Homo sapiens: one gene and its partners. The protein of the gene in region 2 purifies or fractionates together with the protein of the main gene of each other region. This does not show direct contact. Each region holds a gene or a part of one and is shown on either strand. Other genes may lie near its edges.

Region 1 (7,117 bases), on a different chromosome or scaffold from region 2:
TATATATGAATATAAATAAATGGGTGTGACTGAAATGAACACTGAAATTTTATCTTCCTGTAATTGTCACCTATGTAATATTATTCTTCTTTTATTTCCCATCATTTAAAAATGTAAAAAGCAGGCCAGACGTGGTGGCTCACGCCTGTAATCCCAGCACCTTGGGAGGCTGAGGCGGGCAGATCACGAGGTCAGGAGATCAAGACCATCCTGGCTAACACAGTGAAACCCTACCTCTACTAAAAATACAAAAAATTAGCCAGTCATCGGGGTGGGCGCCTGTAGTCCCAGCTATTCGGGAGGCTGAGGCAGGAGAATGGCATGAACCCAGGAGGCGGAGCTTGCAGTGAGCTGAGATGGAGCCACTGCATTCCAGCCTGGGCAACAGAGCGAGACTCCGTCTTAAAAAAAAAAAAAAAAGAAAGAAAAATGTAAAAAGCACCCTTAGCTCACAGACCATATAAACAAGCAGTAGGTCCAGGTTTGGTTCACAGCCTATATATAGTATGCAGATCCCCACTCTAGGTCAGAATTTGCTAACGTGTGCTTCAATTAAAAAAAAAAAAAAGATTTGACATCAAGTAGATTAAACAAATGGAACAAGTTATTATCTTGGCTTATAAGGCACATTTCCTTATTGCAGGACCTCTCAGTGGTTTTAATGTGGTATTACACATTGAGAAGCTCCAAGAAAGAATAATGGTATGTGGCTTTCTCAAACTTATTATTAGCATCAAATCCTTTTTTCAGAGCCACTTCTTCAGACCAGTGGCCTGAAGAACATACTTATGAGAATGTCAATTCAGACACTTCTTTAAAAGGAAACTTTTAGATCGAGAAGTTCTAAAAACTCCAACAAATTAAGATCATTTTACCCAGTACCTGGATAACATCTGAATAAGCATTTCACAACTTTTTTATTTTTTAATCTTGGGAAACACAAGTCGATAACTGGCAGGAAGTTTTGGCTCAACCCTAACTTTTGTGGCGGCGGGGGAGCAAGTCAGCAGAACTGGGTCATAATATGGAGCCTCTGCTCCCTAAGACAACATAAACATTCCTAAGCATTCTAGCAGGTGTTGAAAAAGTGATTTAGGCAGAGCTTTGTAATGCACAAAATAAGGACATAATAATGTTTGATTAGAAAACCAAAGGTATGCTAGAGGCCAGGCACAGTGGCTTACACCTGAAATCCCAGCACTTTGGGAGGCTGAGGCAGGCGGATCACTTGAGGTCAGGAGTTCGAGACCAGCCTGGCCAACATGGTGAAACCCCATCTCTACTAAATACTCAAAAAAAAAAAAAAAAAAGCTGGAACTTGTCATGTGTGTGAACTGGCAAGTCAAGTCTATAAGAGGACTGTTTTTATATGATGCATGGAAAGCTAGCCAACAGACTGCAAAAATTCTCTCACATCTATACACATATTGCTGAAGAGAGGATTCAAGCAGGGATTATGTTCCAGGGAAGAGAAGGCTGGTCTGAACAACCTCAAGGGGTGCTTTCAACTGAGAGTCCTCAATTTTGTGATTCAGAGTTCACTGGCTTCTCCTGGTCAAACATAAAATCTTCAGAGGCATTTCCAACTTGTTCTTAGAAAAAAGCTACTAACCCATGGGGTGGGACCCAGTTTACTTATTCATTCAATAAACATTTAAGGTGCCTCTATCAGATATTGGGTCATTCCAAAGTCCTTGAAAAGAAGGATGGTGCACAGGACAACCAGGAAGAGATTATGTAAGGTCAGATGCATTGGCCTTATTTACAGGAGATGTAGGCTAAAGTGATGGAAGTGTCAAAAGAGAAGAAAAAAGTCACATTTGCCTTGAGAGCAGAGTCAGCACCAGAAAGATGCAGAACAACTCCTTGGAATCACAGACTTTCAAGTTGGAAAGGACCTTCATCTAATACCTATATACCTCCCTCGAAAGGAGGCACGGAGGCAATCCATTCACTCCATCGGTGGTCACCTCTGACGATTCTTCCATTTAAGTTCTTCTATTAAGCAAAAATCTTGCCTTCCTGTAGAATTCACCTGTTAGTCCTAGTTCTGCCTCTTTTAGCCTAAAGATGAAGTGGAAGCCCTCTTTGCCGTAACAGTATTTTCAATTTTTAAAAAGTTAATTCCCTTCCAGTGCTCTCTTTACTGAGCTAACCATTCCAGTTCTTTCAAAGTTCCTGAACTGGCACCAGCTGCCTCAAAGCGAAGAATGGATATCTAGTGCTCACAGCAGGAAAGCACTTAAAATCAATGAGCTTCAAACATTAGTATATACAGGACCCCCCTACGCATAAGTTCAGATTCTAAACCAGAAGTCTGAATTGAGTCCCGCGCTGTAAAGCCGGCATCTCAGAGAATTACAAAGCAGATGGTGTAAGAACCATATTTTGAAAAACACTGCCCCGTTTTAGAGACGAGAAAACTGAGGCCCAGCACAGGGAAGAGATTTGGCCCAGAACGCACAATTGTCTGTCGGTGGCGAAGTCTCGAATCCAGGTCTCTTACTTTCAGCCCAACTCTGTTCACCGCGCTCCCCGGCCTCTGCTTCTCCACTCAGGGCAAACTCGTGAAATGCACTCCCAGATGATAGAGGCGGTCTCGCACGGGGGATAGAATGGGAATCAGTGCCCATGCCTCGAAAGGAGAGCTTGTGGGAGCCCTTCTCTTTCGCAAGGCCTCAGTTTCCCCAATCTGTATTCATGGGACGCAGAACCACAACGCCAGCTCGTCCTCTTTTCGGGGACAGACACGACCGGTCTTGCTGTCTCTGGGCCCCTGGGCTCAGATGTTCAAGCCCGTGTGTCCTGGGAAGGCGGACCCGGGTCTCCCGCCCCCGTCCCTAAACTTTGGCGCCCCCGCCCCAACCCCAGCCCCTCACATACCTGCCTCCGCACAGTTAACGCCAGCCCAGTCAATCAGTTTTTCGGGTACACGGCCAATACTAACGCCGCGTCAATCTGTTGGGTAAGACCTCCGACCCCTCCTACGCGGACTCCAGTCACATGACGCGGAGCCGCCCCTCTCGGAGGGACTTCCGGCCCCAACCGGAAGAGGTTAATTTCCATGGCTGAAGCTCTAAGGTTCCGCCTGCGGGCAGGAAGCGGAGGAACCTTGGAGCTTCGGCAGCTTTTCAAAGAGCTTTGGGTTCGGGGCTCCTAAAAGAAAAAAACTGATTCCGGCCGGGCGCGGTGGCTCCCACCTGTAATTCCAGCAGTTTGGGAGGCCGCGGCGGATGGATCACTTGAGGTCAGGAGTTCGAGACCAGCCTGGCCAAAATGGTGAAACCCCTCTGTACTCAAAATACAAAAAGTAGCCGGTCGTGGTGGCGCACACCTGTAATCCCAGCTACTCGGGAGGCTGAGGCAGGATAATCGCTTGAACCCGGGAGGCGGAGGTTGCAGTGAGCTGAGATCGCACCACTGCACTCTAGCCTGGGCGTCAGAGTGAGACTCCGTCAAAAAAAAAAAAAAAAAAGAGAGAGAGAAAGAACTAACTCATTCCGGAAAGTACCAGATAAACTTGGAACATCTTGTTACACCAGAATATAAGGATGATGGTAATAAGAATCATGGGAATGTGTCAAAGAACACAGGAGCTGTCTTTAAGGAGATCTTACTGGCCAAGTCAGGGCAATTTCAGAATCAAAATATGGAGTGATAGTAATAGAGTATAACTAATTGAATAAAATAGTAATCCATGAGTCTTTACAAACATAAAGAAGTGAGCATATTAATGGGTGAAGGGAAAGTCTTCCTTTTAGTAGAATGCTAGCTAATAAACATGGTGGAATTAGGAAATCAATAATGTGTGGTAAAACTAGAGAAACGGGATGTTTACAACAGCAAAAGTGTCTCCCATAAATTAGCTATTGATTACAAAGGGAAAATGGTGATGTTACAGAGGTTTAACCTAGCAGAACAAACAGATCAAAGTGATCAAAGTTAACACCACTAGTTAATGGGTCAGATCAAGGGCCTCCTAATAAAATGCACTGAGAACACATCTGTGGTATTTCTGTCAAAAGTGCACCGTACACATCTCATGAGGAAGTGCTAGAGAACCCCAAATGAAGGACACTGTCTACAAAATAACTCATTGTCATGAAAAACAGAGAAAAGCTGAGGAACTGTTCCAGTTTAAAGGAGACTAAAGAAGCATGACAACAAAATGTGGTGTGTGATTCTAAATAGGACCCTGGACTGGGGTAGTGGTGGTGGTGGAATAGTTGTAATGGACAATATTGGGACAAGTAATGAAATTTGAATATGGATTGTGGATTAGCTGTTAATACATATTGTATCAAATCACATACTGATAGGTGATGGAGCTTGTGATTTGCACTCAAGCAGTCATTGGAGTTCTTGACAGCCATCTTCATTCATTCAACAAGCATTTATTAAGTACCTACAGTTATCCCAGGAACGGTTAGGGATCGGACCTGAGTAGGAGGTGAACATAGTAGATAAAGGCCGGCGCGGTGGCTCACGCCTATAATACCAGCACTTTGGGAGGTCGAGGCAGGCAGATCACCTGAGGTTAGGAGTTCGAGACCAGCCTGGCCAACATGGTGAAACTCATCTCTACTAAAAATACAAAAATTAGCCAGGCGTGGTGGCGGGCACCTGTAATCCCGGCTACTTGGGAGGCTGAGGCTGGAGAATTGCCTGAACCCAGGAGACAGAGGTTATAGTGAGCCAAGATCGTGCCATTGCACTCCAGCCTGGGCGACAAGAGTGAAACTCCATCTCAGAAAAAAAAATAAAAAATAGTAGATGAAATAAGCTCATAGATGAAAGTCCTAGTCTGCCAGCCACCTTTGCAAGTTCCTGTGATCAAGAAGTAATACAAGGGATGTTTCCAGTCACACAAACCTGGATTTGAAACCAAGCGCTAAGAGAAAAACAGCCCCTGACATCCAGGAGATGGTCTGGCACTCACAAATAGACCTTGGTGTGTTCTCTTATTGAACATAAAAACTTCACAGAACATCAACATCAAACAAAGCCACTATGTGACCATGATGGATCAAGACAATAACAAAACCACTTGAATCATGTCTAAACCCAGACAAAACATGAGCATTGTTCGAACTACAAAAATGGCCAAACATTTCCCTATTCTGGCTTGTATAGAGATTATAGATTTAGCCTCGGTCTACTCTTCCCTCCTTCTAAATAATGTTTATCAAGGTACTCACTCATAGGCAGCATCCAATCCAGAAAACCCCATTTTCTTAAGCCCTCGTCCAAATCACCTAATGCAAGCCCAAATCCTATGTGTCCTTTGTAACACTTTGTTACTGAGATGCCCCTTTGTTTGTTTGTTTGTTTGTTTGTTTGTTTTTGAGACAGAGTATCACTCTATCACTCAGGCTGGAGTGCAGTGGTGTGATCTCGGCTCACTGCAGCCTCTGCCTCCTGGGTTCAAGTGATTCTTCTGCCTCAGCCTCCCAAGTAGCTGGGATTACAGGCGCCCACCATCACTCCCGGCTAATTTTTGTATTTTTAGTAGGGACAGGGTTTCACCATGTTGGCCAGGCTGGTCTCGAACTCCTGACCTAAGGTGTTCCTCCCACCTTGGGCTTCTACAGTGCTGGGATTACAGATGTGAACCACCAAGCCCAGCTGCCCTATTGTTTCTCATGATTCATGTCCTCTCACCCTTACCCCATAACAAGTGATAAACTCAACTTGTTTAACCACAGGTGTGTTCCAATTTCTTCCTTCCTCAAAAAGTTGTTATGAGGATACTCGGAACAGGTTCATCACAGAGTGAGCTTTCTCTATCAATCGATCCATTATCTATTTTTTATTTTTTTAAAAAAACATGGTCTCAGCCTGTGGTCCAGACTGGAGTGCAGTGGCACACCATCCTAACTCACTGCAGGCTTCAACTCCTGGGCTCAAGTGATCCTCCCACCTCAGTCTCCTGAATAACTGTGACTACAGGCACGCACCACACCCAGCTAATATTTTTTATTTTTCTGTAGAGACAGGGTCCTGCTGTTGCCCAAGCTGGTCTCAAACTCCTGGCCTCAAGGGATCCTCCCAGTTTGGTCTCCCAAAGTGTTGGGATTACAGGCATGAGCCACCTCACCCAATGCTTTCAATATACTTTTAAAAATTATACATATATTTTTGAGACAGCACCTCACTCTGTCACTCAGATTGGAGTACAGTGATGCCATCTTGACTCACCTCAACCTCCGCCTCCCTAGCTCAAGCGATTCTCCTGTCTCAGCCTCCTGAGTATCTGGGATTACAGGTGCATGCCACTACCACCCAGCTAATTTTTGTATTTTTAGTAGAGATGGGATTTCACCATGTTGGCCAGGCTGCTCTCGAACTCCTGACTTCAGGTGATTTGCCCTCCTCAGCCTCCCAAAGTGTTGGGATTACAGGCGTGAGCCACCACGTTTCCCCCTCAGCTTGCATTGTTTCTGGGAGAACCTGCACCATACCTTTATCTATAGCTTTCCCCCAGGTCTTAAGAAGCACGAAGTTTTAACTGTGGACACGGGATTTGGTGAAGCAGCAATCACGACTGTGGGCACGAGTAGCAAGGCTGCAGCAGCACATTGACTATAGAATGAAATGCATCCTACAGGAAGGCACAATCTTCTTTGGCATCTTTAAGGCGTTTGACAAGCATGTGAATTTGATCCTCTGCGATTGTGATGAGTTCAGAAAGATCAAGCCAAAGAACGTGAAGCAACCAGAGCTCGAAGAAAAGCACTTTTGGGGTCTGGTGTTGCTGCATGGGGAGAACTTGGTATCCATGACTGTGGAGGGGCTACCCCCAAAATATACTGGCATTGCTCGGGTACCACTTGCTGGAGCTGCAGGAGGCCCTGGAGTTGTTAGGGCAGCTGGTAGAGGAGTATCAGCTGGTGTACCAATTCCCCAGGCTCCTGGTGGATTAGCAGGCCCCGTCCCAGGAGTTGGGGGACCATCCCAGCAGGTAATGACTCCACAGAGAAGAGCATTACTGGAGCCCCAACACAGTACCCACCAGGACCGGGGGCTCCACCCCCACCTGTTGGCAGAGCAGCCCCACCTCTAGGCATTATGTTTCCTCCACCTGGTATGAAACCACCCATGGGCCCACCAATTGGGC
Region 2 (7,651 bases):
CAAAAATTAGCCGGGCATGGGGGCACATGCCTGTAATTCCAGCTACTGAGGAGGCTGAGGTGGGAGGATCACTTGAAGCCAGGAGGCGGAGGTTGTAGTAAGTCGAGATCGCGCCACTGCACTCCAGCCTGGGCGACAGAGCAAGACTCCGTCTTAAAAAAAAAAACAAAAAAAAAAAACACAAAAAAACCCTAATAATAATAAATTATTAAAAAGTCTCCGGGACAGTCTCCTGCCAGGCAGTGCTGGCTCTCAGGAGACCTTAGCTCTGGCCCAGCCCATGCCCAGGAAGACAGAGCTGGCACAGACCAACCCCCAACCCGGATTCCCTGTATGAGCCAGCACAGGCGGAACCCCCCCACCCCGCCCACCCTGTTTCCCTATATGAGCAAGTACAGGACAGAATGAGAGGCTTGGGGCTGGAGGAACTGGAGGGAGAGTTGGGGCTCTGTCGGAGGAATCAAGGAAAGCTGCATGTAAGAGGAGGCAAGGGAGATGGGGTTTTGAAGCATCAATAGGAGTTTGACACATTTTATTTTATTTTATTTTATTTTATTTTATTTTATTTTATTTTATTTTATTTTTAGTAGAGATGGGGTTTCACCATGTTGGCCAGGCTGGTCTCGAACCCCTGACCTCAGGTGATCCACCCGCCTCAGCCTCCCAAAGTACTGTGATTACAGGCTTGAACCACTGCACCTGGCCGACCCATGTCATTTTAGACCAGTGCTGACCATTTCTGTTATTCTGAGATGAAGGAAATTTTCAATGTGGCACTATCTACTACTGTAGCCACTGGCCATGGGGCTACTGAGCACTGGAAGTGTGGCTGGTGCCATCAGGGAAGCAAATACTTCATGTTCTTTTTATTTTATTTTATTATTATTTTTTGAGACGGAGTCTCGCTCTGTCACCCAGGCTGGAGTGCAGTGGCGCAATCTTGGCTCACTGCAAGCTCCACCTCCTGGGTTCACGCCATTCTCCTGCCTCAGCCTCCCCAGCAGCTGGGACTACAGGCACACCTCCACACCCAGCTAATTTTTGTATTTTTAGTAGAGACGGGGTTTCACTGTGTTATCCAGGATGGTCTCGATCTCCTGACCTCGTGATCTGCCCGCCTCAGCCTCCCAAAGTGCTGGGATTACAGGTGTGAGCCACCGCACCCAGCAAATACTTCCTATTCTTAAATTTCAATTAAAAATTAAAAACTGGCACTAGATTCCATTTTTTGAAGACACATATATATAAATACACATATATATGTAGCTGGGACTCCGAGTAGCTGGGACCGTAGACACGCACCACCACGCCTGGCTAATTTTTGCATTTTTAGTAGAGATGCGGGTTTCACCATGTTGGCCAGGCTGGTCTTGAACTCCTGACCTCAAGTGATCCGCCGGCCTCAGCCTTCCGAAGTGCTGGGATTATAGGTGTCAGCTGCCGTGGCCGGGCTATTTCAATTAATTTCAGTTAAAAATTAAAAACTGACATGATTTCCGTTTTTGACTATATATATATGTACACACACATTAAAGTTTTCAAATACATAAATACACACATATGTACACATTATACATATAAATGTAAATATATAGATATTTGAAACAGGGTCTTGCTCTGTCACCCAGGCTGGAGTGCAGTGGTGCAAATATAGTTCACTGCAGCCTCGACCTCCTGGACTCAAGTAATCTCCTGCCTCAGCCTCCTGAGTATCTGGGACTACAGGCATGTGCCATATGCCTAGCTAATTTTTAAATTTTTTGTAGAGATGGGGTCTCCCTATGTTGCCCAGTCTGGATTCAAGTGATCCTCCCGCCTCAGCCTCCCAAAGTGCTGGGATTGCAGGCGTGAGCCACCGTGCTCAGCCTCGTGTATATTTTAAATACCTTAGCGTTTCTGAATTTTCCTTTTCAGTATAAACGCTGTAAATCTAAATACTGTGGAGATAAGTATTTCTGAGGAAGCACTGGTATCCATATTGGAACACCCCATGGATGGGAAACACACCAGATTCTGAAGACTTGGTACATCTCAGTTACTTTTTTTTTTTTTTTTTTTTTGAGAAGTAGTCTCGCTCTGTCACCCAGGCTGGGGTGCAGTGGCGTGATCTCGGCTCACTGCAAGCTCCGCCTCCCGGGTTCAGGCCATTCTTCTGCCTCAGCCTCCCGAGCAGCTGGGACTACAGGCGCCCGCCACCACACCCAGCTAATATTTTTGTATTTTTAGTAGAGACAGGGTTTCACCGTGTTTGCCAGGGTGGTCTCGATCTCCTGACCTCGTGATCCGCCCGCCTCGGCCTCCCAAGTGCTGGGATTACAGGTGTCAGCCACCGCGCCCGGCCACTTTTTTTTCGTTTATGAGGTGGGGTCTTGCTCTGTTGCCCAGGCTGGAGTGCAATGGTGCCATCACAGCTCACTGCAGCCTCCAACTCCTTGGCTTAAGCAATCCTCTTGCCTCAGCCTCCCAAGTAGCTGGGACCACAGGCACACACCACCGTGCCCAGCTAATTTTTGGTATTTTTCGTAGAGACAGGATCTCATTATATTGCCCAGGCTGGTCTTGAACACCTGGGCTGAAATGATCCTCCCGCCTCAGCCTCCAAAAGTGCTGAGATTACAGGCATGAGCCACCGCGCCTGACCTTGTTTGGATAACTTGAGATGTGTAAAATATATTATTAAAATTAATTTCACTTGCTCTTTTTTAGTTGTTTTACTGTGGCTACCAGAACACTTAAAGTTATGTTTGTTATTTGCTTATCTTTCTCTTGGAAAGCTGTGTTCTTGACCTGTGGGCCAAATCCAGCTGCAGCCTATTTTTGTATGGCTTGTGAGCTAAGAATGGCTCTTACATTTTTAAGTGGTTGAAAAAAAAACCCAAAATATGAAAACCATTCTATCAAACGTGGAAATTACATAACATTCAAATTCCAGTGTCTGCAGACAAAGCTTTATTGGCACACAGCTGTGCCCATCCATTTATGTATCATTTACGGCTGCGTTTTCTGTACAACAGCAGAGTGGAGTAGTTACTCTACCCAAAAAAGCTAAAAATACTGACTGTTGGCTTTTTTACACTTTATTTTTTAGAGACAGGGTCTCACTTAGTCATCCAACCTGGAGCGCAGGGATACGATCATGGCTCACTGCAGCCTCCAACTCCTGGGCTCAAGCAGTCCTCCCACCTCAGCCTCCCAAGTAGCTGGAATTACAGGCATGCACCAACGTCCTCAGTTAACTTTTAAAAACATTTTTTTGGGGGGGCCGGGCGCGGTGGCTCATGCCTGTAACTCCAGCACTTTGGGAGGCTGACGCGGGTGGATCACGAGGTCAGGAGTTCAATACCAACCTGGCCAAGATGATCAAACCTGGTCTCCACTAAAAATACAAAAAAAATAGCCGGGTGTGGTGGCGGAAGCCTGCAATCCCAGCTATTCAGGAGGCTGAGGCAGAGAATTGCTTGAACCCAAGAGGCGGAGGTTGCAGTGAGCCGAGATCACGCCACTGCACTCCAGCCTGGGCGACAGAGTGAGACTGCGTCTCAAAAAAAAAAAACAACACAAAACTTTTTTTTGGCGGGCTTGGTGGGTCACACCTGTAATCCCAGCACTTTGGGAGGCCTAGGCGGGCAAATCACCTAAAGTTAGGAGTTCGAGACCAGCCTGACCAACATGGAGAAACCGTCTCTACTAAAAATATAAAATTAGCCTGGAGTGGTGGCGCATGCCTGTAATCCCAGCTACTTGGGAGGCTGAGGCAGGAGAATGGCTTGAACCCGGGAGGCGGGGGTTGCAGAGAGCCGAGATCGCGCTTCTGCGCTCCAGCCTGGGCGACAGAGCGAGAATCCATCTCAAACAAACAACCAAAAAACCCAAAAACCATAGTATCCTCTTGTGTACGCAGCCGGCACTCAGTAAGTGCCCCTGAAGAGCACTTATTTATTCATTGCTGCGCGAAGCTACGGGGGCAGGTGGCACAGCGCCACGCAGGAGTAGAGACTGCCAGATTGTTCTACCGCCAACCTTAGTGGCGCCACAGGAGATGGACACGGGAAGACTATGACGTTACTGGCCCTGTGACGTCATGGCAGGATCCGGGCAAGAGAAGCCAAACGAGGTGACGAGCTGTAGACTACAGCAAAAATATGGAACGCTTCACGAATTTGCGTGTCATCCTTGCGCAGGGGCCATGCTAATCTTCTCTGTATCGTTCCAATTTTAGTATATGTGCTGCCGAAGCGAGCACGACTCAAGGGTTACTGTCACACCTATTTTAAGCCCTTCAATCAAATCATCTTTTGGTTAGGATAACTTATGGTCGGTTTCATATTTAGCATAATTTCCTACAGTGGTATGTTGCAGAACAACTTTCGTGCTTACGCTTACTTTGATGTCTTCGATCACGTAAAATCCCATATCTTATCGTAATTTTACCGCCTTATACTGGCCTCATAGCCGCGGTGGATTGTGGGTGCCAATATGCAAAAGAGGTGGCCCAGATGCAGGCCCGCCCCCTGGAGCGGCCGAGGTAGGGGGTGAGGCCTCCGCGGGCGCCGCTGGCATCCCAGCGTTCTCTGCGGGCGCAGGGGGGCCGCTCTTGCCCGGCGTGGCGACTCGCTAGCGTCAGCAGCGCCGCAGCCGGACGAGAAAGCGGAAGATGGCGGCGGCGGCCGGGAGGCCGTGAGGAGAGCGGCGGCTGCGAGGGCGGCCGATGGCGGCCGGGAGGCGCCCTCGGACACTTGCGGGTCGTTAGGGCGCGACGCTGGGAGGCATGTCGGAGCACGTGGAGCCCGCAGCTCCGGGGCCCGGGCCCAACGGCGGCGGCGGCGGCCCGGCCCCCGCGCGCGGGCCTCGCACCCCCAATCTCAACCCCAACCCCCTCATCAACGTGCGCGACCGGCTCTTCCACGCGCTGTTCTTCAAGATGGCTGTCACCTATTCGCGGCTCTTCCCGCCCGCCTTCCGCCGTCTCTTCGAGTTCTTCGTGCTGCTCAAGGTGACCGCGGCCCCGACCCCCGACCCTTGACCCCAGCGGCTGTCCCGACCCCCAAGTCTGCTACCTCCGACCGCGACCCCTGGCCCCGCTGGGGACAGCGAGCGCCACCCTGCACCCTGAGGCCTATACCCGGCCCTACCGATTAGGGCTCTCCCTCGCGACCTCTGACCCTGGGATTGGCCAGGGACACCGTCTCGTGACCCCATCCCGCCCGGGGACGTCCACCCGGGAAGGCCGGATCCCGCTGCACTAGAAGCCGCTGTTCTCTACTCTGGAAACCTCACTGTCAGCTCCCTCCAGGGCCCATCCTGTCCCCGGCGACCGCCTTTCCCAGGTCCCCACCTACCCAGGCTTGGAGTCCGGTCCTGGCCTGCGAGGTAGCACCTCCCGCCCTTTGACCCCTGACTGTGCCGCCTGAGACCCTCAGTTCCGAGGCCTCTCTCCCCTCCCAATGTGCTGGCCCAGAACCCAGCCTGACGCAGGTCTCCCTCGGACCAACCCCTGTCCTGGAAGTCGACTCCCCACTCCCCTCTCTCCCTCCTTGTAGCCTTTCAGCTGCGTTCCCCGCTCCTGAGCCTCAGGGGAATGTGACTTAGCTGAGGTCACCTCGCTAGGGTTAGCGGCAAAGTCACCGGCAGCAGCGTACCACCCCATCCCCGGCCTCTTCCTCCGCTGGGTCCCCACTCCCTTCCTGCTTCAGGAGCTCAGGTTGTGGGTCTGTCGCCCGTGCCTCCCCTATGAGGCACCGGCCTCCGCGTCTTGGGCTCTGTCCCCCTCCCGCCCTCCTCAGATGGCAGAGGTCTCAGCCGTGCAGGACAGGCATCGGCCTGACTCCCTCTGAGAAGGAGTCTTGCTTGGGTGACAAGAGGGGCTCAGTAGCAGCTGCAGCCCCTCAGAAAACAAGCTGGCCGGGGTCCTGGGCCACCTGGCGAAATGGGGACGTGGCCGTTTTCGTTCTGCATCAGAACACCGCCGCGCCGGGGCTTGGGGGCTGCTGAAGTTGCGCCGTGAGCTTTTTGGATCTAGCCTGCAAAGAGGGGTCCGATGCTGGCGGGCCAGGCTGCGATCGTGGGCAAGTTCCCAGCCTGACACAGGTTGGTCAGGAGCTGGCTGCTTTTTTGGGCTCGGCAAGTGGAGCTGGACCTTGGCCGTCCTGCGGACCTGGGTGTGGGTCCCAGCCTGCTGCCACTTCACGGAAGGCCCCCCAGCCTCCAGATCCGTGCCTCCCCAGGCCAGAGCTCAGCCCATCATCCTTCCCACCTTCCTCCCTGCAGCCCCCCAGAGTGGCATGGTCGCCTCAGTAGGCACCTGAGCAGGGCTGTGAAGGGTTACGCAGGCAGGCGGCCTTTCCCGGCTCTGGGGTCCACAGACGGGGCCTGAAACTGTGGACGGAGGCTGGTCTGTGGACGTGGGTTTTCCTTCCATGGAGTAGCCTGGGAACAGGATGGAGCCACTGTGTCCTTAGGCTTGTGGAGGGTGTGTGCTGGGTGCCAGGCCAGGTTCCCCCGACGGAGCTCAGCCTCCTTGGGAGGTGCATCCCTGTCGCCTGGGCCCTGGTCCCACCATGTCCCGGTTTGGAAAGGGATCAAGCCTACCCGGCTCCATCTCCAGGCCAATACCACTCACAGGTGGTCAGATGGGGCTGGGCCAGAGCTGGAGTTCCCCGTCTTCTGTGTAGGGTGGAGACTCTTGGGAGGTTCTCAGTAACCCCAATCCCTCCTCTCTCAGCAGAGGGCTTTGGACTGTGAGATCTCTGGGTGGTGAATTTTTTTTTTTTTTTTTTTGAGATGGAGTCTTGCTCTGTCACCCAGGCTGGAGTGCAGTGGTTTGATCTCGGCTCACTGCAAACTCCACCTCCTGGGTTCAAGCAATTCTTCTGCCTCAGCCTGCGGAGTAGCTAGGATTACCGGTGCCCACCATCACAACCGGCTAATTTTTTTGTCTTTTTAGTAGAGACTGGGTTTTGCCATGTTGGCTAGGCTGGTCTCAAACTGCTGATTTCAGGTGATCTGCCCGCCTCGGCCTCCCAAAAGGCTGGGATTACAGGCGTGAGCCACCATGCCTGGCCTGGGTGGGGAAATCTGTTCTTTGTGAATTTTCCACCCGGTAATCTGGTGGCACAGAATCTGACCCTGCTGCCTTCACTTTTACTTATCTGCAAAGTGCAGGCTGGAACTGCCTGATTTCAGAGGCTGCCTTGAGTTCCAGAAGGCTCCTCTGCTTCCTGCCTGCCTGGCTTCCGGGGGTCTCCCTGCAGAGAGCCAGGTCCTCCCTGGTATGATCCCTTCAAGGTGGCTTCATCCTGTGGCATCTGTGCAGCTGAGCTCCCAGCCCTGAGCTGGCATGGAGTCCCCCAGCTCTCACCCATGCCTGGGTGGCTTTAGGAAATGCCAGGATCTCCCAGCTCTGAGCCAGCATGGAGCCCCCCGGTCCCTCATCCATGCCTGGGTGGCTTTAGGAAATGCCAGGCAGTGCCAGGTGCTGGGGAGAGAGGAGGCGGCAGGGGCCTGTGTTCCAGGGGCCCTCGGGAGACCTCCATCCAGCCTCAGTATCCACCTCTGCTGGCCTTCATGGCCCTGAGCCCAGTGTGGCAGAGACTGTCCATCTTGGGGCACTGGGTGCCTGCACCTGTGCGGTTGGGCTCTGGACCCAGGTGAC
Region 3 (7,513 bases), on a different chromosome or scaffold from region 2:
CCAACACCCACCCCGGCCCAGGGACGCCAGGAGACCGTGGCCGCTGCCGCTAACACCAGCTCCCGCTGCCCTCCCGCAGCCCTCCCCGCAGGCGCCACCCCTACATGACTCCCCGGGCCCTGCGCAGGTCGCTCCCTCAGTCGGTCTCGGGGCCCGGGGGCCGGGTTCCCCCCGCGGCCTCCTCATCGGCTAGCCACCGAGTCCGCCATCTTCCCAGCAGCCCCTAGATAGCCGCCCGGACGCCAATCCCGAAGCAGCTATCGGTCTTCGGAGACGTGGCTCCCGGCAGGCACTGCGAGCCAGGGAGCCGCGAGCCCCGCCCGCGGGAAGTGCGCGCCCGGCGCCGAGGGCGGGGCCACGGAGGCCGGCGCCAAAGCCAGAGCAGAACGCTGGGGAGAAGGGAAGGCGGAGGGCCAGACCCCAGGCGCAGTCCGTGCCCTTCTCTCCCAAGGGGCGAGGACTCCCCGCCCGCCAGCCCGCACACACTCAGACACACTGCAAGAGTGAAAACTTCACAGTTACTTTAATCTGCACGGGTTCCGGGGAACTCCTCTGCCCCTCCCCGCTCCCCTTCACCAGCCTCCCACCGACCTGGCGTCCCCAACTCAGCCCAAGGAGCTGTCAGGGATTGGAGGCGGCTGGGTCCTCCGGCAGAACACTAAGACGGGCCCCCGGGGCGGCCCGGCTCTGCCCGGGGCCGAGGCAGCGACAGCAGATGCCCGACCCCGAGGAGCCCACTCCCAGTGCGGGCTGAGGGTCAGCAGCCCCGGGAGGTGGCCCCGAGCCCCGGCGGTCGCAGGGCGGGGCCTCCGCCAGTCCCGGGAGTCCTCTGCGGCGCAGGGCTGGGCTCCAGGGCGGCGGGAAGAGGCAGGCCGGAGAGGCGGGCCTGGGCAGGCAGCAGCTCCCGCCGCGGCGCGGGGAGCAAGGTCCGGAGGGGCCGGCGACGCTGCCAAGCGCCCGCGGAGGCACTACGGGCGGTACATGGCAAAGGCCAGGAGACTGAGGAGCAGGGTGAAGCCGGCCAGGCCCAGAGTGGCGGTCAGGGGAAAGAAGGGCCGGTACTGGATCTGGCAGTACCAGAGCAGCAGCAACAGCAGGAGCAGCAGGGGCAGCAGCAGGCTGCCGATTTCCAGCCCGGAGGGGCCGGGCTCGGACCCCGGCGGGCAGGGGGGATTTGGGGGACCGACTCTCGTGGACACGTGGCAGTGGAGAACGCAGTTGGGAGGGAGGTGAAGGCTGCCCAGGGTCTGGGTGTCGTCGCCTAGCAGCTGCCCTTGGTAGATGAGTCGCACCTGCTGTTCCCGGCCGGGAAACTGGGTCCTGAGGAGAGAGGGACCTGGGTAAGAGAGCAGGCCTCAGGCAATCCTAGTCCCTGGCCCCGGAACAGCACTCCCACCCTCCCCCTGCCCTCCACAACACACCGGCCCTGGCCTGGGAGGGGCCGTCTGCCAGGGGAACAAGTACAGTTGTGATCTGGGGCGCTCAGCGCCTCCAGTATAAAGGAGGGCTGGGTCTTAGGTGTCTCTGGGGGCCTTCTGCGACCACTCTCCCAACCCCTGTCTTTAGCATTGCTCCTGCCTCTTGACCTACTTACCTTTTCAAGGAGCCAATGGTGTCGTGGGGCCAGGCCCTGGCCACCTGCTCTGAATCATTGAGGAATTTCAGCCGTAGCACGAGGGGCTCCTGCGGGGAGTCCGGGGCTGGCGGTGTTGCTGTGAACCCCGTGCTGGGCTCTGGCTGTGCAGCTTGACCTCTGTGTCTCAGGCTGGGGGTCTCTGCCCCTGGGGCCTCCCCTCTCATGCTGTCGGTAGCTGCCATGGCTGCGCTGGGCTGGGATGGCGTTGGGGTCCCTGACGGCTGGGGCAGTGGGTCCCCGCCCTCAGCGGTGTGCGTTGAGACCCAGGCAAGGGCCAGCACCAGAAGGCAGGCAAGCACCGAGAAAAGGACGGTCACCTCATCACCCACCCCTTCAATCAGGGTCATGGCGCCTGCCTTGCCCGCCGCGCTACCGAGCTGGAGAGGCACAAAGAGCCCGTGAGGCCCGGGCCCCCTGGCCAGGAGCCCTGGAACCTCCACAGGGTCCTGCCCTCACCCCACCGCGACGCTCCCACCGTCCTCAGCCTCCGTCCCCTCACCCACCCCAGGGTACCGGCTTCTCTGCCTCCCAGTCGCCCCAAACTTGCCTCCGGGTGCCCCTTCCCATCGCCGAATCCCAAGTCCTAACTTTCTGTCATCTGAGCTCGAGGTCTTCAACCAGCTCCCAACTCACCCAAACCCTATCCCAAGGTAAGGGCCTAAGCAACGCCTCTCCTAAACTTCACCCCAACCAAACTTCACCCCCAAGCGTATCTATTCTCCTGCCCACTTCACCCCAGTGTGTCTACTCCTTCACCGACTTCACCCCAGGCTCATCTACTCCGCTGCTAAAGTTTCTAAGAGGTGGGGGTAGAGCCTCTGTGCCCCCACCCCCGCCCCCCGCGTTACGGTTCACCTAAACCCCACCCGCGGCACAGGACTGCTTCCCAGGCTTCCCCCACAGCAAACGTCAAACTCCGCCCCTGGGCAATCTGGAGCCACCGAGCGTCACCACCCACCCAGCTCGGCCCCCTCCAGGTCCCCTCAACCCCACTCCGCGGAGGACTAACTCCGCGCCTCCTCTGGAAGTCTCTCCAAGCCCCCCGGGCTGCCTGACCCCAGATCCCGCCCGGAATCCGAGACTTCACGTTCCCCACCCCCACCTCTCATCACCCCTCCCACCTTCCCGCCCCCCGAAGCCGCAGGAGGGCACGGCGATCCCGGCCCGACCGGGGCCCTGGGCGGCGGGGTGGGCGCGGTCACGGCGCGGGGACTCACCGCCCGGCTCCCCCAGCTCCATCGCGGCCCCTCGGGCACTTCCGGGCGGGAGGCGCGGAGGTCGCAGGCACCTGAAGCACCCCTCCTTCCCCGCCGCCGCGGCCCGGGGCATTGTGGAACTTGTAGTCCGGCGCCGCGCTGTCCCCGCCCTCCGCCCTGCGGACCCACGTGTGGGGCTCCACCCGCGGTTCTCTGCGCCTGCAGATCGCGAAGGGGCTGGCGGGGGCGGTTTTGGGGGTTGTGCTACCCCCTAGAGGTTTGGGCGGCAGCAGCGTCCGCCCCCTCCCCTGCCAACAGCCAGGGCATCTATCACACCAGACACCGACGTCAGCTGGAGCACGTCAGAGTACCCGTGTTCGTGATGCAGTGTGGAAGGCTCTGAGGAACTCAGGTGGCCCCTACTGTTATGTCAGAGTGGACGCCAGAAGGCACTTTGGCCACCAAAATTAATTCTTCAGCCCAGAGCCCAATATCCATGGGCTGCCCCACCAGGCTGGCTAGGGATACCCATCCTCAGGGCTGCCCCTTTCCTTGGTCCCCTCCTCCACCTTCGGGACTCCACAGCCCCTTCAGGGCTGTGGAAGAAGCATAGACCTTGGAACCTGGCAGAAATCCTGATCCCTTATCTTGTGCTTCTCAGCTATATGACCTTGGGTGGGTTATTGAATCTCTCTGAACATTAATTTCTTCCTCTCTAAAACACACCTCGTAAGTCAATCATAAGGAAGAAATTAGATGTTTTATTAAAAAGTGTAAAAACTAAGGTACATGTCACACAGTAGCTATTCGCTCACCTCCACCCAAACCTGGTCTCAGGAGTCGGGTCTTTGGTGTGTTACTGTGTGGATGGCATTGAATCCCAGGCCTGTGGATATCTGGATTTTTCCCTCTGGGCTCCTGTAGCCACAGAGATCTCACATCCTGGTTTTTACAGGCCAGTCTTGATTTAAAATAATCTATCCTAGTCTTCCCATGGTTCTTGCCTACTGTGGGAGCAAGTGGCCCAAATATTGCCTTAGGAATGTCAGTCTAGATTGATACCATACAGAACTAACCTACCTCTAGTTCCATCCCTCCTGTTCATTCATTTATTCTACTAACATATTTTTTAAAAGATGTACTATGGCCAGGCGCAGTGGCTCACGCCTGTAATCCTGGCACTTTGGGAGCCAAGGCAGGCGGATCACTGAGTTCGAGACCAGCCTGGCCAACATGGTAAAACCCTGTCTCTACAAAAAAAAATACAAAAATTAGCTGGGCGTGGTGGCGGGCGCCTGTAATCCCAGCTACTCGGGAGGCTGAGGCAGGAGAATCATTTGAATGCGGGAGGTGGAGGTTGCAGTGAGCTGAGATCGAGTCACTGCACTCCAGCCTGGGTGACAGAGTGAGACTCCGTCTCAAAAAAAATTACACACACACACACACACACACACACACACACACACACACACACTATATCCCAGGCATTGTGCAAGATACTGGGAATAAAATGGTGAATCAGACCCTCTTCCTGCCCTCATGTGGCTCCATATACTAGTAGAAGAGCTAGACGTGTGAACAGCCCAACAGTGCTATAACACGTGTGTGCTAGTTGCTGGGGCAACACATTTGAGGAGCTCTTTGCTCTTAGTGTCTCTCTTGGGAGGTATACCTGGTGCTACTTCCTGCTGTCAATTCTAATTAAGCACCTAAAAGAGATGTTGGATGTTACTTTTAGAATTATACAACATCAGAACTAGGTTTTATGTTCAACCACTATATTTCGCAGATGAAACCCAGAGAGGGCACAAGATATCCTTAAGCTTATGCAGGGAGATAGAAACACAGGTTCCTCAGGAGCTTAGGAGACCCTGTGTGTTGATTAGCTTGCACCAGGTGCTTTGGAAGGTACAAGGAACTCGGGAATAGTGACTGGGTTGGTTCTGGGGCTGAGTTGTGTGGGTAATCAAACAGTGGACAGCTTCATGCTGGGAAAAGATCCAGCTTGGCCAGGGAAGTGGAAGTGTGCGTAAGAAGGACGATGTGTGTCACTGATGCCCTAGGATATCTGGGGGTAGCAGATACCCTGCAACATCTCTGGCAGATTTATTGGCTGCGGCCTCTGCAAATGTCACCTCTTGTAGGTTTTAGGAAACGTGTGTGTGTTGGTGGGGGGGAGGGGGCTAACAGAACTGCAGCCCACTTTGGCAATGGGACTGCAGAGGAACTGGGACATTTCAGGGAGCTCCCTGGCCCTAGAGGGAGTGAAAGGACAGGATGGACAAGGGGTGAGGACAAGAAAAATTGAGAGCCACGTGGGCTTTGGTTGGTCTCTCCAATGGGATGAGTAGGGGAGAAAGGCATATACTATTTCATCCCTCCCTCTTCTTCCTCTATGTACCAATGGGGTCGGGTAGCATTTAGCTAATCTCCCAAGTCCGGCAGGGGGAGGGTCTTTTAGGAGAGCACTGCTGCAGCCGGCAGTGGAGAGCCTGGGCAGGGAGACAGGGAGAAAACTCCGGCAGCAGGGTGGTCTCTAGGGCTGACCTCGGAGCCTGGGGACAGGGGAGCCTATGCCGCACTGAAGGCGGGACGCTGTAAGCGAGGAGCAGCTGGGCCTGGGCGGACTCCTCGGCCAATCAGCCTCGGTCAGCAGCACCCTCAGGCGCAGGGCACTGTTTGGGCATTGCCTAGAGATCCGACACCCCGCCCAGATCAGCGCAGGGAGGCGAAAGCGACAGCCGGGCGCGGGAGGAGACCAGGGCAGCTGTCCCCTCCGCGAGGGTGGCCCTCGAGGCAATGCGGGTGGGGGCTGGTGAGGAGGCGGAAGGGCCGAGGCTGAGTGGGAGGGGCCGGGGCGCCAGGGCTGGAGCGCGCGGCTCGGGGGTGGAGGCTGCAGAGCCAGCGAGCGAGCGAGGGGCGGGGGCGCCCGGGCCGGCGCGCAGGAGGGGCGGGGGCGGCGGGGAGGGGGGCTCGGGCTGCGTGTGCCGGAGCCGGCGGGGGCGGCGGTGCGTGCGCATGACGCGGGGGGAGGGCCTGGGCCGCGCGCTCCCGGTCCCGTTGTTGTTGCCGCTGGAGGCTGCTCCGAGGCAGCGGGATCACGGCGCTGGGAAGCGCTCGGCAGCGGCGGCCACAGCGTGCGCGGCGGCGCCTCCTGGCCTCGGCCTCCGGCCCCCGGCCCCCGGCTCCATGCGCTAGCCCCGCGCCGCCAGCCCAGTAGTCCCGGCCCCGCCAGCCCCGCGCTCCCGCTCGCCGCTGCCGCCGCCGCCGCCGCCGCCGCCTCCGCCGCGCCGCCCCGGGCCCGCCTCGGGCCCCACGGCTCCGAAGCCATGAACTTCCAGGCGGGCGGGGGGCAGAGCCCGCAGCAGCAGCAGAGCCTGGCGGCTCCGGGGGGCGGCGGCGCTGCCGCGCAGCAGCTCGTCTGCGGCGGGCAGTTCGGCGGCGCGGGGCCCGGGGCCGGGGGCGGCGGCGGCCCCTCGCAGCAGCTGGCCGGCGGGCCCCCCCAGCAGTTCGCGCTCTCCAACTCCGCGGCCATCCGGGCCGAGATCCAGCGCTTCGAGTCCGTGCATCCCAATATCTACGCCATCTACGACCTGATCGAGCGCATCGAGGATTTGGCGCTGCAGAACCAGATCCGGGAGCACGTCATCTCCATCGAGGGTGAGCGGAGCCGGGGGCTGCGGGAGCCGGGGCGCAGTGGCCTCTCCGGCGCCGGCCGAGGGCTCCACAGGCCGTGCCTGGCCATGCTCTCCCTGTCGGGGGTCCTTGCGCGCTTGAGGACCAGGCCACGAGGTTTGCCGATCTGTGTTGCAGAACCGGCGGGCAGCTTCGCCATATCTCGTTCGGGGACACTTTGGGGTTGGGGGTTTTCTGCTGACTGTGTTCCAGGGCGCGAAGGTGGTGTCGCTTGGGGGGGCCGGGACCAGATCTGTCCAGGCCTGGCCGGGGAAGGTGGGCGCGGCAGAGGGCTTCAGCTGCGGGGAGGTGGGGTCGTGACCGGGGAGGCTTCTTAGCCGCTGCCCGGGCCCTGCTCCGCAGTGGGGCGGGGGATCGGAGCCTCGCGTTAGTGGATGGCAGCCTTCCCGGGCCCAGCGCCCGCAGGCCCGGAGGGTGGCGCTCGCCGCGGCGCCCTCTCCCGACGCACACCCCCTACGCCGCGGCGGCCAAGCGGGAGCGGGCCGGGCCTGGCGCTGGGCTGAGGCTCAGCGACCGCGTGGGAGGCGCCGGCAGGTCCATCCGCGCTTTGGCCGGGTCATGAGCCTGACGGGGATCCGCGGCTCCTCGGTCTGGAGGCAGCTGCTGGGCAGCCGGGTGCTGACCGACCGCCAGGGACACCGCACCCGGAGTCGGGGACCGGAAACCCCCGGCCACTGCGCTGCCTAGCGCTTTTTTCTCTGGGCCCTTAGGCCCTGGACTTTCGACCGCTGAGGGCACAGGAAGTGGTGGCACGCTGCTGGCAGATGCCTCGCAAGCCCTGGTGTGGTGGGTGCTGGAGGCACCCGCAGGCACCCCGGTGGCATGGTGACCTTCGAGCGGGCACGGACAGATGGGCCTCACCCTGGGCCATCTGCTTCCTCCCCCAGCTCTGTTTGAAAGGGGACGCCCACCGGCAGGTGGTGGGTTTGGCCTCAGTGGAAATGCAGTGAGAGCCAAGGCCTTTTGCGATAACATGGAGTTATGG
Region 4 (6,949 bases), on a different chromosome or scaffold from region 2:
GCAGTGGCGCAATCTCGGCTCACTGCAACCTCCACCTCCTGGGTTCAAGCGATTCTCCTGCCTCAGCCTCCTGAGTAGCTGGGATTGCAGGCGTGCGCCACCACGCCCGGCTGATTTTTGTATGTTTAGTAGAGATGGGGTTTCACCATGTTGGTCAGGCTGGTCTCGAACTCCTAACCTCGTGATGCACCCGCCTCGGCCTCCCAAAGTCCCGGGAGCCACTGCACCCGGCCTGAAGGGTGTATTTCTAAGAAAGTATCTACCTGCCCTTGGTAGGGGCTGGATCTTACACTTTGCTGCAGCTCCCATGTCTGCACCAGCCTCCTTAGAGGCAACCAAGGGCTGGGGGATGAGCACAAGCAGCTTCCCACTTCCCAGGCCACTCACCTCTTCAGGGCACCCACGGTATCCTCTGGCCTAGCCACAGCCAGCTCCTCGGTATCATTGAGGAATTTGAGCCGCACAGTGATGAGGCCAGGGCTGGGAGGGAGGCAGGTGCTATCCTCAGATCTCAGGGGGGCCTCTGGACTGCTGCTGCCTGCACCTGCTTGTCTTTTGGGCAGGCCTTGGATGTCAAGGAGATGCTCAAGGCTGGGCTCAACACCACCCCCAGCTCCAGCCTCCCCAGTGGAGTCTCCCCGACCTTCACCCGCCTCTTCAGCCTTCTCATCATTACCCTCTGATGGATGGGGGAGTTCAGTTGGCTCGGGGTTGCCTTGGCCTGCCACCAGGTGGTCCACATGCCCCAGGTGGAGGACGGATGTGTCGCCTGCTGACACAATAGCGCCCAGGAGCTGGTTGCTACCGCTGTCTGCTACGTAGGTAGAGAGCCAAGCTAGGACCAAGGCTAGAATCAGCACCACCACACCTGCCACCACCATCACCTCATTACCCACACCCTCAATGAGGGTGACATCAGAGAGCTCCATGGCCTGGCTGCTGGCAGGGTCCACGCTGCAGGAACAAAGGGGGACAGCATCAGCAGAGCCTGAGGGGTTGCAACCAGGTCTCTAGTTTGTTTAGGTTCTAACTGACCCAGCCCTGAAAAAAAAAAAAAAGGAGTTCAGTGTTGTGTAGAAGGGGGCACAAACCTTCCTAATTCCGGCACCCCAACCTAAACCTAAAGACCTACCCTACCCTTTGCCTCTATTGTGAAACTCTTGCTTTCACGTTCTGTGACCTTCCTCTCTCAAACTCCAACTTCCCAATGAGTGTGGATCAGCAGGAAAAGCCCACAGCCTTGCTGCTGCTGCTACTGTTGTTGCTTTTTTGGTGAATGAGGAAAAATCTTTGCTGAGGCCTGAGTTTCTCTAGGATTTCTATCGCTTGGTCAAGCAAATATGCCTCCTAAGCAGCCTCCAAAGTGGCTTCAGAGAGACCCAAAAGCCTGGAATATTTTACTGTGGGGCCCCCCTGGAAGCACTGTTTAGCCATCCCTGCCAGATTGTCTCATTTGAGCCTATTTCATTCCTGGTCACAGATCCAGGCTGCCAGATGTCAAGAGCCAAAGAAAACTGACCTACCATCAAAAGCAGAGTCAGACAAATCTAAAACGATAACTCTGTAGGGACCGCGGGCAGATACTATGCAGCAGACATTATGTGCCGCCTCTGAAACTTCTGGCAAGCCCTGGGGAGCAACTTGGGACAGACACCAGAAGCACCACCTTCCTGGGTCACCATGGGCCCACTCCTGCAATGACCACTCCCCAAGTGGAGTGATTTGAAAAAGATTCCATAACAGCTCTCACAATCCATATCTCAGTCTCTCTTCTTTCACTGTGAAGGTTCTGCTGCTGCAGTTTCTTAGAAAGGCAGGAAGGGTCCCTGCTTGCTCCTTGGAGTACCTACTATTTCCCTTGGAGAATCTGCTGCTTTCACAGCTGTCCCTGGGCAAATCCAGTCTGGTGATTACCATTATCAGACTATTCTCACAGCACCTATAAAACTTCATTATACTTATGTACCTGTCCATCTTTCTATTAGACTCCTGGTAGACAAGGATCGTATGTATTTCTCTTGGTACTGAAGTGTCCAATATAATGCCCCAGTAGTTGCTCAAAGAATTATCTGTGGAACACATCAACATCCTTATTTAATATACCGGCCCTGGAGTTAGAAAAACAACTAATTATAACCCCAGTCTTGCGTCTTACTAGCTATAACACCTCAGACAACTTTCTCAGAGCCTCAGCTTTCTCATCAGTAAAATGGGGTTAAAAACAGTACCTACCTCATGAGGTTGTTTTGAAGATGACGTGAAATCATCGAAGCAAAATACTTGGCACAGTGCCTGGCACACTGCAAATTGCAATTGCTTAATAACGGTAGTAATTATTTATCACAACCACAACTAACCCCTGATGGTAAGAAGGTTAATGTTATTAACCATGATTTACAGGAAAAGAAACTGCGGCAAAGAAAGACGAAAACGATTGGCACAGACACAGGGAACTCTCGTGGGGAGGGGCCCGGCAGGACCCCAGGTGTCCGGCCTCAGGGGTCTTTGCTCTGTCCCTCAGCCTGTGATCTACCCTGTCCGTACCGTGACCGCACGGTGAGGAGGGGTCCCGCACCCTTTTTCTGAGGCGAAGGTTCCGCTTTTGGATGGTCCTATTCCCTCGGCGTTGGACTGGGGTCCATGGGCCCACCCGAACCGAAGGGCTGCCTGGCCCCAGCCTCCGTGATAAGACCAGTTGTCCCGGCCAGTGAGGAGTAGGGTCGGCTAAGGGGGTCACAAACCGTCCACACCCCTCAAACTTCGGGGCGGGGCTGGGGAACTGGGGGCGGGGCTTCAGGACGCGAGGAGTCATGGGAAATTAAAGGGGGATTGGACCGGCACTGTGCCTGGATGGGGAAGTCCTCACCTGAAAAGACCAGACTAAATGTTTTGACCTCGCCAGGACGGCCCCTGGACTCGTCTTTCCGTAGGGGTCGGGAAAAGGGCTGGCAATCTGCGATTCTGTTCAGGGTCCGGTCTCTTCCGGCTTCTCCCGGAAGCTGTTATACCAGGGACAGGAAGTCCCGCCTCCGCGCCTTGCACTGATGACGCGAAGCTGCGTAAGACGGGCTGACGTAAAAGGTATTCTTTAAATAAAAGGGACAGGTTTCTCAGCGGAAGGAGGGGTGGAGTCATTGTTGGCGGGATTGCGGCCCTCCCAGAGCGGGGCCACGCCTGGTGGGCGGGGCCTTAGGCAATCCAGGGTGAGAGGCGGGGCCAGGGGGGAGGAGTTAGCGCGGAGGTACTTGGGAAAGGGGCGTGGCTTCGCGACTGCGGAAGGTTGCCCGGGCTGGCGCCGCTGGGCAGAGCCGGTGCGACGTTTCCCTTTCCAGCTTTGTTCTTCCGGCCCTGCTGTCTGCCTCCCCGGCTGATTGGATTCGTTACTGCTTTGCAACGCGCACCTAACTCCAGGTTAGCGGGGATTAGTAAGAACTCAGCTCTGGGCCAGTCGGGAAGACAGATAAGGAGACCAGTTAGTCAGCATCCAGTGCTTGAAGAGTGCGGCCCCAGGTAGTGTGGGACCCGGAGAAAGAAGGCGGGAAAGCATTTCAAAGAAGGCACAGATTCGGCGCAGGCTTAGGACACAAAAAGGGGGAAAAGTCCAGCTTTCAAGAACTTATCCAGATTTTTGCAGTTAAAATTTTTTCTTTTTTGAGACGGGAGTTCCGCTCTTGTTGCCCAGGCTGGAGTGCAATGGCGCGATCTCGGCTCACTGCAACCTCCGCCCCCCCGGGTTCAAGCGATTCTTTTGCCTCAGCCTGCCGAGTAGCTGGGATTACAGGCATGCGCCACCACGCCCCGCTAATTTTGTATTTTAGTAGAGACAGGGTTTCTCCATGTTGGTCAGGCTGGTCTCGAACTCCCGACCTCAGGTGATCCGCCCCCGTCTCGGCCTCCCAAAGTGCTGGCATTACAGGCGTGAGCTACCGCGCTCGGCCGCAATTAAAATTTTTTCTAAAAACTTACTGTGGCCGGGGGGAGTGGCTTACTCTTGTAATCCCACCGCTTTGGGAGGCAGAGGTGGGAGGATCGCTTGAGCTCAGGAGTTCGAGGCTGCAGTGAGCTATGATCTGAGCCACTGCATTGCACCCGACAGGGAGGCCTTGTCTCCAAAAAAAAAAAAAAAAGCGCTGGAGTTTGGGGTTTTGGAGAACTACTGATTAAAGGATAAATAATCCAGACAGGGGCAAACATAAGCAAAAAGCTCGGTGGCTTCTACCAACTGAACACTGGCAGAAGTAGCACTTAGATCAAGAAATAGATAATTAGGACTGGCGCGGTGGCTCACGCCTGTAATCCCAACACGTTAGGAGGCTAAGGCAGGCGGATCACAAGGTCAGGAGTTCAAGACCAGCCTGGGTAACATGGTGAAATCCCGTCTCTACTAAAAATACAAAAATTAGCCGGGCGTGGTGGCGCACGCCTGTAATCCTGGCTACTCAGAAGGCTGAGGCAGGAGAATGGCTTGAACCTGGGAGGCGGAGGTTGCAGTGAGCTGAGATGGAGCCACTGCACGCCAGCTGGGGTGACAGAGCGAGACTCTGTCTCAGGAAAAAAAAAAAAAAGAAAGAATTACCCCAGAATCTCCCCCTTCATGTCTTCTTCTAGCCATTAACCTCCAAAGAGTAATCACTATTCTGACGTCTGTCACCATACATTAGTTTTTCCTGTTTTTGTACTTGCTATAAATGGAATCCAACTGTGTATCCTCTTCGGTGTCTAGCTTCTTTTTTGTAAGTCCTTTCATTGTGGTAAAATAAACATAGCTAGGCACAGTGGCATGCACCTGTAGTCCCAGCTACTCTGAAGGCTGACTCAGCAGTGTCACTTGAGCCCAGGAGTTAAAGGCCAGCCTGGGCAACACAGGGAGACCTCTATCTCTAAAGATAAATATATACATATACGTAACATAAAACTTAAAACCATTTTAACTATTTTTAAGTTTGCAATTCAGTGGCATTAAGTACATTCACAAAGCCGGGCACAGTGGCTCATACTTGTAATCCCAGCACTTTGGGAGGCTGAGGCAGGAGGATCCCTTGAGCCAGGAGTTCAAGACCAGCCTGGGCAATATGGTGAGACCCCCATCTCTAAAAAAAAATTAATTAGCTGGGCATGGTGGCGTGTGCCTGTGGTCCCAGCTACTCAGGAGGCTGAAGTGGGATGATTGACCCTAGGAGGTTAAGGCTGCAGTGAGCCATGAGCCAGCTACTCAGGAGGCTGAGGTGGGATGATTGCTTGACCCTAGGGTCAAGATTGCAGAGAGCTGTGATCGCGCCACTATGCTCCAACCTGGGAGACAGAGTGAGACTCCGTCTCAAAATAAAAAAAAATGTAAAGGAAAATAATTGTCTTCAGCTGAGCATGGTGGCTCTAGAGTGTAATTGCAGCACTTGGGGAGGCTAAGGTGGGAGGATCACTTGAGTCCAGGAGTTTGAAACCAGCATGGGCAACATTGCGAGACCCTGTCGCTACAAAAAATTTAAAAATTAGCCAGGCCTGGCGGTGTGTGCCTGTAGTCCCAGCTACTTGGGAGGCTGAGGTGGGAGAATCATTGGAGCCTAGGAGGTCAAGGCTACAGTGAGCTGTGATTGCGTCACTGCACTCCAGCCTGGCATACAGAAAGACCCCGTTTCAATCAATCAATAAAAACCACTCTGGGAGATCTTCCCAAGGCAGTACACATGCTGGTCACTTGGAATCCCTCCCTAGTTCTTTCCTGCCATGGGTAATATGGATTTGTCTAACCACTCCAACATGAGTTGTTGCAAGCAACGCTGAGAGGAATATTCCTGTATGTAGCCTGCCTTTTGTGTAACTGGGAACAGTGTTTAAGGAAGTGGCCAAATTGCCCCCAAAGAGGCGATTTGTCCACCAACAGGATTTGCACACCTGGCCTTGTATCCTGATTTTTTTTTTTTTTTTTTTGGAGACGAGTTTTGCTGTCACCCAGGCTGGAGTGCAGTGGGAGATCTCAGCTCACTGCAACTTCCGCCTCCCAGGTTCAAGTGATTCTCCTGCCTCAACCTACTGAATAGCTGGGAGTATATGTGTGTGCCACCACACCTGGCTAATTTTTGTATTTTTAGTAGGGAAGGGTTTCACCATGTTGGCCAGGCTGGTCTCGAACTCCTGGCCTCAGGTGATCTGCCTGCCTCGGCCTCCGAAAGTGCTGGGATTATAGGCGTGAGCTATCGCGCCTGGCCTACTTTTTGTATTTTTAGTAGAGAAAGGGTTTCACAATGTCAGCCAGGCTGGTCTTGAACTCCTGACCTCAGGCGATCCACCCGCCTCGGCCTCCCCAAGTGCTGGGATTACAGGCGTAAGCCACTGCACCCAGGTATTTTTCTTTTTTAACGGTATCTTTTGTAGTTGTAAATATATCAGAAAAGGCTGAGCTGGCTGTGGTCGGCGTGCTGTAAAGGGGTAGAAAGTTCAGCATTGCCCCTGAGAGTGAGGCTCCCAGCCTCCCTCTCTAGGGAGGAGTTCTTTTTCTTCTGTCAGGCCTTTTGGCTCTGTAAAACTAAAGCACAAATTTTCATCCAGAAAGGGGGTGTTGCATTCTGCATAACAAGGTGAAAAAACTGTCTTTGTGTTGATGAAATGGAATCCCAAAGATATAACTCTCCTGGAGGAGGGAAAGTTGGGCAGCTGCAGCAGGAGGCAGACCCCAGGACTTTGGATCCCTGTCTCCACTGTATAACTCCAACTGGTATTGGGACTGGAGACCCTAGGATCCCTCAGCAAAAAGACTGCTGACTCAGGAGAAGACTGCTGGGAGCTCCTCCCCAGTTCCCTCCTGTGATAGGTACTATAGGTTCTGGGTCTATGAGAGGCTTTGTGTTTCTGTTATTTTTATTCATTTTTTTATTTTTTTTTGAGACGGGGTCTCACTCTGTCGCCCAGGCTGGAGTGCAGTGGCACAATCTCAGCTTGCTGTGACCTCAGC

Evidence for each region.
Region 1: the proteins of TMEM259 (region 2) and RNF185 purify together in Homo sapiens (affinity purification with mass spectrometry; 4 studies listed by BioGRID and IntAct, with this or other methods). This does not show direct contact.
Region 3: the proteins of TMEM259 (region 2) and TMUB1 purify together in Homo sapiens (affinity purification with mass spectrometry; 3 studies listed by BioGRID, with this or other methods). This does not show direct contact.
Region 4: the proteins of TMEM259 (region 2) and TMUB2 purify together in Homo sapiens (affinity purification with mass spectrometry; 3 studies listed by BioGRID and IntAct, with this or other methods). This does not show direct contact.

Annotation. Positions count from the first base shown.
Region 1 is NC_000022.11:31,156,070-31,163,186, reverse strand, and holds the start of RNF185 (E3 ubiquitin-protein ligase RNF185), read right to left. Parts: upstream 3,006-7,117; 5' UTR 2,884-3,005; intron 1-2,883. UniProt on the Homo sapiens protein: E3 ubiquitin-protein ligase that regulates selective mitochondrial autophagy by mediating 'Lys-63'-linked polyubiquitination of BNIP1.
Region 2 is NC_000019.10:1,018,114-1,025,764, reverse strand, and holds the start of TMEM259 (membralin), read left to right. Parts: upstream 1-4,641; 5' UTR 4,642-4,768; coding exon 4,769-4,993; intron 4,994-7,651. UniProt on the Homo sapiens protein: May have a role in the ERAD pathway required for clearance of misfolded proteins in the endoplasmic reticulum (ER). Promotes survival of motor neurons, probably by protecting against ER stress.
Region 3 is NC_000007.14:151,080,581-151,088,093, forward strand, and holds TMUB1 (transmembrane and ubiquitin-like domain-containing protein 1), read right to left. Parts: upstream 2,914-7,513; 5' UTR 2,854-2,913; intron 2,440-2,853; exon of another isoform or gene 2,184-2,439; intron 2,014-2,183; 5' UTR 1,984-2,013; coding exon 1,595-1,983; intron 1,321-1,594; coding exon 969-1,320; 3' UTR 505-968; downstream 1-504. Other genes in the region: FASTK (fas-activated serine/threonine kinase), read right to left, coding at 105-186. UniProt on the Homo sapiens protein: Involved in sterol-regulated ubiquitination and degradation of HMG-CoA reductase HMGCR. Involved in positive regulation of AMPA-selective glutamate receptor GRIA2 recycling to the cell surface.
Region 4 is NC_000017.11:44,183,027-44,189,975, reverse strand, and holds the start of TMUB2 (transmembrane and ubiquitin-like domain-containing protein 2), read right to left. Parts: upstream 3,005-6,949; 5' UTR 2,867-3,004; intron 2,774-2,866; exon of another isoform or gene 2,301-2,773; 5' UTR 2,268-2,300; coding exon 2,233-2,267; intron 2,070-2,232; exon of another isoform or gene 1,975-2,069; coding exon of another isoform or gene 1,967-1,974; intron 1,042-1,966; exon of another isoform or gene 955-1,041; coding exon 388-954; intron 1-387.